Linked DNA regions of Homo sapiens. The protein of the gene in region 2 interacts with the protein of the main gene of each other region in a pairwise test. Each region holds a gene or a part of one and is shown on either strand. Other genes may lie near its edges. The genes, in order: ANKS1A and SLC15A2.

Evidence for each region.
Region 1: the proteins of SLC15A2 (region 2) and ANKS1A interact in a two-hybrid assay, tested with the Homo sapiens proteins (one large-scale study listed by BioGRID).

What each region holds. Positions count from the first base shown.
Region 1 is NC_000006.12:35,087,942-35,091,906, forward strand, and holds the end of ANKS1A (ankyrin repeat and SAM domain-containing protein 1A), read left to right. Parts: exon of another isoform or gene 1-658; intron 659-664; coding exon 665-668; 3' UTR 669-3,465; downstream 3,466-3,965. UniProt on the Homo sapiens protein: Regulator of different signaling pathways. Regulates EPHA8 receptor tyrosine kinase signaling to control cell migration and neurite retraction.
Region 2 is NC_000003.12:121,918,116-121,921,928, reverse strand, and holds part of SLC15A2 (solute carrier family 15 member 2), read right to left. Parts: intron 1-3,813. UniProt on the Homo sapiens protein: Proton-coupled amino-acid transporter that transports oligopeptides of 2 to 4 amino acids with a preference for dipeptides. Transports neutral and anionic dipeptides with a proton to peptide stoichiometry of 2:1 or 3:1.

The DNA.
Region 1 (3,965 bases), on a different chromosome or scaffold from region 2:
TGAGGAGGAAGGCCTTCCGTAGAACCAACGAGGAGGCGGCCTGTGCCCTGCACACACGGCGCACCTTCTTCCCTCACAGAACAGAGCTGCTGGAGGACAGGGACCTGGACCAAGTGGCCTCCATTGTCCTCTGGGAGCTTTCTGACACTCTCCACGGTGGGGGATCACAGATAGACAGCGCCGTCCAGCATGCCCCTGACCACCTCCCTCAGCCTCCTGACTCCTCCGAAAGGAGAGGCCGTCCCATCGCAGCAGCTCAGAAGCTGGGATGGTGGAGCTGAGTCTTTGAAGAGGCACCCCATTCTCCAGTGTGGGCAAATCAGTTTGGATGGCAGGAGACAGGAAGGAAGCGGCGCCCATAGGCAGCCGTGCACACATAGCAGAGTCCACTAGGAAAGCCAGTCGGCCAGGGCAGTCAAAACCCAAGTCGATAAACTGGGTGGGTCCTGCGTACCCACCCATCCTTGTGCCTTCCTGAGCAGAGTCACTGAGCCAGAGGCAGTGGGGGCTGCAGGCTGTGGGTGCTCAAAGCAGGCATGGAGGGTGCCCCGGGGAGGCTGTGAGGGATCGTCTGTCCTGCTCTGTGTTTCCTTTCCATTTCCTCCACCGTCCGCAGGCCCCATTGGTTAACCCTTTCCTCCCCCCATTGTTTGCTTCTGCCAAGCTGAGCCACTGAGGAACCACACTGTGCTGCGGAAACATAGACGTGGGGGCATAGGCTCCCACTGCCACCACCGCCATCGCCTCACCTGCAGCTCTGAAGACCCAGGCCTCACCTCCGCCTGCAGGACCTCCTCTTGGCCACTTGGCCTGGGCCTGCCACCACCACGTCCTGCAGAACGAGCCCTGCCTTGGCTGTGGAGAAGCACTCCAGGCCGCTAGCAGATGGGACTGGCATTCCAGAGGGTCAAGAAGTGACTTGTTCAGAACACATTGTTTTTAACAGAAAAAAAATCTTTTTATAAAATGAACTTTTAACACTTGGCTCAAACCTCTAGGTCATACTGCCAATCTTTAGACAAATGGCCATGGGGCAGAGGACAGGGGAGCTGAGGTTGGTTCAGAGGCCAGCCTGCATAGCCTCTGTCCTCAGGACGGAACTTGGGTGCAGCTCAGTGGGTCGGAAGAGAAGGCGGTGGCCTGTGGGTGAGGGGAACGGAGCAGGCTCAGGCAGAATTGAGTACGGTGCGTCTGCTTTTCAAACCCAACCATATCAGCTGCTGCTCTTTATGAACTGCCCAACTTCCTGTCCCTTTCAGGGGCTAGACACAGGCTTCTCGTAAGAACACAGCCTTAGAGGCACCTGAGCAACTCAAAGGTTTCCGGTCCATTTCTGGGGTTCCCGATGGGAAGGTTCAGTGGCCAAATGAAGATAAGTGTGCAGTTTCTAGTGCTGGGAAGTCTTAGCCAGCACCAGAGCGCCAGGCCTCTCCCTGGCCTCTTACCTGTCAGTGATCGGAGCACTGCCCTGGGCTGGCCGGCGCCGTACTGCCTGCGTTGTGTCAGAGAATAGGAAAAGCAGCTTTGTTTGGGGCATTAATGCTTGGAGTGGGGTCAGCTAAGGTTGCTACTTGCCAATTTGTGATTTGTCTAATCAGCCTGTGTGATTGGGGCTCATTTTGATTCTCTGAATTATCGGTTTGACGGTTACACTTGGCTGCTGGGCCCATCCCTGGCCCCCGGTGTGGAAAAGGCTAAATAAGGTGACAGTGCATCGATGCTCCCCCGCGTGGCCTTTGGGGCAGGCTGGCATCCCGGTGCGCCTCTGCTTCTTAAGCTTTCCTGCTGCTCGCTTTGTTTTTAAAAGTAACTTGGGTTGCATTCTTCCCTCTGGACTAGAGTAGAAATGCAGGGGAAACTGCTGTGGATTTGAGAGGCAAAGTTGGCTCAGCTGTGTGCCCAGTTCCTCCTGTGGGCACTTTAGCAGGCTCCGAGCTTTCCTGGCATAGGTCAATCAGGTCCCAGGATGAATAATCCAGGCTTCAGCAACACTCCTCTTTCCCAGCCAGCAAAGGCTGTGAATTTGAATTCTTTGTTGGTATGTATGTGCAGGGAGTACTGTTAGGCACATTCTTAACCCATGTGGTTGGCCAGAAATCAGAAGTGGGGCTGTGTCTCTGACTGGCTAGAGGCCAGGCCTTGTGGGTTTCTATCTGCTAAGCACCCAGCAGGTTGGGGCCTGGGACTCAGCTCTCTCTGCGGTAGAGGCAGGCCCTCCTCCACTTCTTGGTACTAAACGAAGATCTCGACACCTTGCAGTTTTACTTCATTTCCTGCCCCTTTCAGGGCCTGTGAGGATGCCCATGAGCTACCGCTGTACAGTTCTCGGCCCCGGCTTTCTTCCAAGAGTTGACCAGGAACCCTAAAGCATCCAGAGTAGACTGCGCTGCCACTGCGCACATGCTGGTGCCCGTCTTCCTCCTAAGGGGCCAGGCCACATCCAAGTGGGCCTCTGTCGGGGGCGGGGCGGTAGGTCCGAAAGAAACCGCAGACACTACGATGCACTCCTCAAGCTGTCTTTTGTGCTTAGATCATCCATAGGTGTTTCTTCTGCTTGAAGCTGCTATATCATCTTTATTTATTCAGGGTATTTTCATATTGGAAGCCTTGGCTAGTCTGCTCTAGCTCTGGGTTCTGTTTAGAGATTGGTTTATTTCTGAATATTCAAGAAAGGAAAATGACTGGGCCTTTCTTTCTTTTCTTCTCCTCTGGGATGGGTAGTCTCCCTTTCCTAGAAAGGTTATTATAACTTTAAGGACAGGCTTCAAGTGGGAAGGCCCCTACTTTTGCACTTCTCCAAGTGCAGGTCACACCAGGGGCAGACCCTGTCGCTGCGTTTCTGAACTGTGAAGGAGCCCATTCGGGTGGGAGACTTCAGATGGGCTCAGTACCTGTCCCAGCCACAGGCTTCTTGTCCACCTCTTCTCCCCTGCCCACCAGCTGCTCAGCGCATAAGACCTTCCCGACAGGCTCTGCGTGTGCAGCTCTCTGCGTCCCTCCTGGGCCCTCCAGCGTCAGACACTAATGGGAGTTCCCGAGATGCTCGGGTTTGAGCAGGGAGCAGGCAGAGCTGCAGTCAGAGACATTAGAAAACCAGTCTGAATTGGGTCTGTCTTTGAGATGCCCAGGCCAGCAGAAAGCAGCTCAGAAGTATTGTTGCTCATGGTGTGGCAATGGACTGAACTGTAATGAAAATGTTATTTAATCTTTGTCTCTGTATTTTGATACTTGAATGACTTTCCCTTTTGTTTTACTGTATATAAAATTGTTAATCTGTCTGATTTTGTCTGAATTATAAACACTTTGAGGTACCAAACATAACCAATCTGTGCAACAACATAGACTGACCTCAGTACCCAAGAGAGTGTAAATATTTCTGGGCTTCCAGCTTTGGTTTTGTTATTTTCATAACTGTACACAACTTAGAACAGACTGAATTAATAAATGAGAAGCGACATGAACGCAGCCTTAATTCTTCTGAGTCTTTGAATTGGAAAGCGTCTTGATGGTTTTCTGGCAGAGGCGTGGGCACAGGCGAGACGCAGGCTCAGGATCAGTGATTCGCATCCTACACCGTTTGGCTGAGATGACGACAGCTTGGCTGTTTGGCTTTCTGTCTCGCACTCTCTAACAAACAGTTAGTTACAGCTGTGCTGTGAGGCGCAAGGGCCCCAGGATTCACCTTCCCCTCCTTAGGAACATCGTTCTGTGAACACCAAGCCAGGGCCACATTCTAGTTACTGCTGCAGTGGCATCTCTTCTGCCTCTTGGTCTGGGCTTGTCCACCCATAGACATGAACCGAACATCTGCCTCCCAGGCAGCCTGGGGGATCTAGAGCTGTGAAAGAAAGTGCTCTCCTTTCAGGAACTTGCTTGGATTGCAGAGGTTAAGTTTTAGACATAAACAACTAGCTACCAGCCCGAAGCCGTGCTATGGTAGGGATGCAGAGGGCAAAGTGTTCCCA
Region 2 (3,813 bases):
CTTTCATGTAATCACAGAAGTGGAAGTCATCTTTGACTTCTTACTCTTCTTTCTCCATCTCCATATCTGAAATGTTACCAAGTTTTATTGGTCCTCTTTCTTTAACGTATTGCCTATTTGCCCCCTCTTTCACTTTACTACTGCTACCACTCTTGTTCAGGACTTCACAACTTGTACTTTGGATTATTAAAATGGCCACCAACTAGTTTCTCATTCCCTAGTCTCTTCCTTCTTTAATCTGATGCCAAATGTTTCTTTCCAGGATCTATTAATACTTACCTGACCCAAACTCCTGGCATGAAAGACCTTCCCAAATTCATTGTTATCCTAATGGTTATTGTTATCCCTAACATCTATTTGAAGGTTTATCACATGTAACTTGTTAAGCATTTTACATACATTAATTGATTTAGCTTGACAAAATATGTACCACTATCTCTATTTTATACATGAAGGAATATTAAGGAAATTAAGCACCTTGTACAAGGTTACACTGCTAGAAGATACCAGAACTGGACTTTTGACCTGAGGCTTGACTGACTCAAAAATCTATGTATTTAATCCTTATAATGCATCTCACTCACTAATTCTTACACCACATACTGTACTAGACACTACTGGTAACACAGGTGAAAAAAACAAGGTCCCTGTCCTCAAAGGAGTTCACCTCAACCTGCCGTTTCCCACTTTATATTTCATCTATCTTTTTGAGATACCCTATGCTGTAAACACTATTCATCATTTATACAAACACTTCTGTTCTATACTATTTCTGTTCTTGAGCTCATTCTGTTTCTTTCAGCCCATATCTCTGTCCTTTAACCACATATCCACAGCTAATTGTAAGGGAATTTCATTTCTTTAATTTTCCTTTTATTTTCCAAATTAACAATGAGCTGGTATTACCTTTGTAGTTATAAAATAGTGGTTTTTTCAATTTCATTCAATTAAAATCAGTAGAAATACTCCATCTTGGTTCCCTCCCAGATGCACTTTCCTCCTTAACGGATTTCCCAGCTTCAGCGTGATGCCCCTCTAGTAGATCCTCTGCTAAAGATGATTTTCTCAGTGACAAGTAGCATTTTCCAGTATCCTTACACATCAGAATGCACAAATCACTTTACTTTTCTCTCCCATCACTTTTTAATATCTCCATTCGTCTCATTTAGATTCACTCTACCACTTTTTCTCATTCATCCTCTCAATTTCCCCAAAGCTTCTCCAAATAGCATCCTTTATCTATAATACCCTTCTCATGGTTGATAGAAAAAATAGTTCAGTGGAGGAATGCTAATCCTGAGAGTCAAGTGGGCAGATAAAAAAGTACCTAGACGGCTGGGCGCGGTGGCTCACACCCGTAAACTTAGCAGTTTGGAAGGCTAAGGCGGATGGATTACAAGGTCGAGAGATTGAGCTGACCAACCTGGCCAACATGGTGAAACCCCATCTCTGCTAAAAATACAAAAATTAGCTGGGCGTGGTGGTGCGCACCTGTAGTCCCAGCTACTTAGGCGCTAAGGCAGGAGAATCACTTGAACCTCAGAGGCGGAGGTTGCAGTGAGCTGAGATTGCGCCACCACACTCCAGCCTGCTGACACAGTGAGACTATGTCTCCAAAAAAAGTAAAAAATAAAAAACAAAAAAAGAGATACCTGGACAAAGGAAAATTTTGGGTAGGGAATAAACTGCTCCTGAAACTAAGAATGATCCTAGAAAGAGGCTGGACACCACAGGAATGCTGGTTGCAATAGTGACAGTGGAGTGATAATAGGAAGACTTATGTAATCAACTAAAGTCATACTTACATGTCAAAGACACTTAACTAAAGAAGATGAGTATAAACCTTGAATTTCTCTACTATCTACTCCTTCTAGTAGATGATGTTGCCTCTTACTTCACAAAGAAAATGGAAACCTTCAAATGGAAACTCCTTCAACTCCCTGCCACCAGATCTATTAATTCTTGTATCCACACTCATCCTGTCCTCCCTCCAGGTAGGTGAAGGTGATATTCCTCCTCCTATCCGCAGCTAATTTGCTCATATGTGTTTTCATACTGATTATACTGTCTTTATCTTGTATCTTCAACCTCTTTCTCCACTGGATTATTCCTAATAATATTCACACATGCTCAATATCCTCTCTTGAATCCATGTCACCTTCCAACTATAAATACTATTTCACTTTCTTACTGATAGTGACAAGAGACAGATAAATTCCTAGGCAGACACGGACGGGTCCCAGTGAAACCCGACCTTCAAGCCAAAGACAGTTTAAAGCCTGAAAACCGACTTGCCGGTTCCTGATAGAGTCCATGACCTGAGTGAGAACTTCTATCTCCGTCTTATCCTCTCTCTCCATTGGTTCCTTTTGGATGATGCCTTTTAACCAATCTAGTGGTACTTTTTCCAAACCCACCCATGGACCAATCAGCATGTACTCCCCCATTCAAAACCCATAAAAAACCCACACTAAGCCTCACAGACGGCTACCTACTTCGGGTCCCCTCTAGGAGCTCAGAGCTTTCCTTCTGCCACTCAATAAAATTCTTCTCTGCTTTACTCACTCTCTGGTGTCCACACACCCCATTCCTCTTCATCATGGGACAAGAACCCGGAACTTGCTGAGCTGTGGGTGATGGGAATGAAAGGGCTGTGACACCCCTGGGCAGCTCGCCAAGCTATGGGCAGCGGGAATAAAAGAGCCGTAACACGCTCCCGCTCGCTAGACTACAGGAGAGAGTTGTAACATGCTCCTGCTCGTTGAACTACAGGAGTGAACAGCTGTAACATTTCTGGGGGCTCAGACCTTGGGACTCCCTGAGCAGGAGCTATAACACCTCTTAGGACTCTGCAATTGCTAGCATCTCCGAGTTTTTGGGCGCCACCGTGTTCCCCTTGTCTAGATGCCGCACCCAACACAGAAGCTGCTCGCTACATGCCCAGTCCAGTCGCAGGCTGAGCGAGCCCAGTGGGCCAGAGCAAGGCCCAGACAGAGGCGGTAGTGGCCACAGAGATTTCTGGCTGACAAAGCAGCACTGAAGGAATCCTGTAACATTTACTTCTCAGTCTCCTCCAATCAGTCTTCAGCCTCCACCATTTACCATAACTGATCTAATCGTATCAGTGACCTCCTTGTTGTTGTATTTAATAGACATCTGTCACCCTTATCTTAATCTCCCACTCAGGAACATTTATCACTCTAAATGAATCTTTTCTTGAAATCTTCTTCATATCCAAGATAACGCTATTACCACTTTGGCCATTCCTTCTTAGTCTCATTTGTGGGCTTTTCCTCTTTGCCTGTCTTTTAAATCCTGGCGTTTCTTGAAGTTTGAACCTATCCCCCCACCCCACTTTTTTTTTTAACCTTACTCTTCTAGCTTTTAGTTATCTATCTTCATTTCATGGTTTATTGCTACCCATATACTAATGACTCCAGATCTATATCTATAGTGCAAACATTTCTTCTAAGCTCTAATCCTGTATTTCCAAATAACTGTTTGGTAACTCCAATTAAATATTCCAAGAACATATAAAATGCAACATGTTCAAAACTAAATTTATCAACATTGCCCCAAACTGGCTTTTCCTCACTAGCTCAGTTAATAACCCCACTACCTACCCAGTTGTTCAAGGTTCAGAACACTACATTAAACCTTGGCTTATCTTCTCCCTCACTTAACATATCTAACCATTCTAAGGTTTGTTAATTCAACCAGGGCCAGATTAGGGTAAACTGAGTGAAGCACTCATCTCAAGCACTAAATTTAAGCAAGTATCAAAAAATTCGGTAATCAAAATAAATATTATCT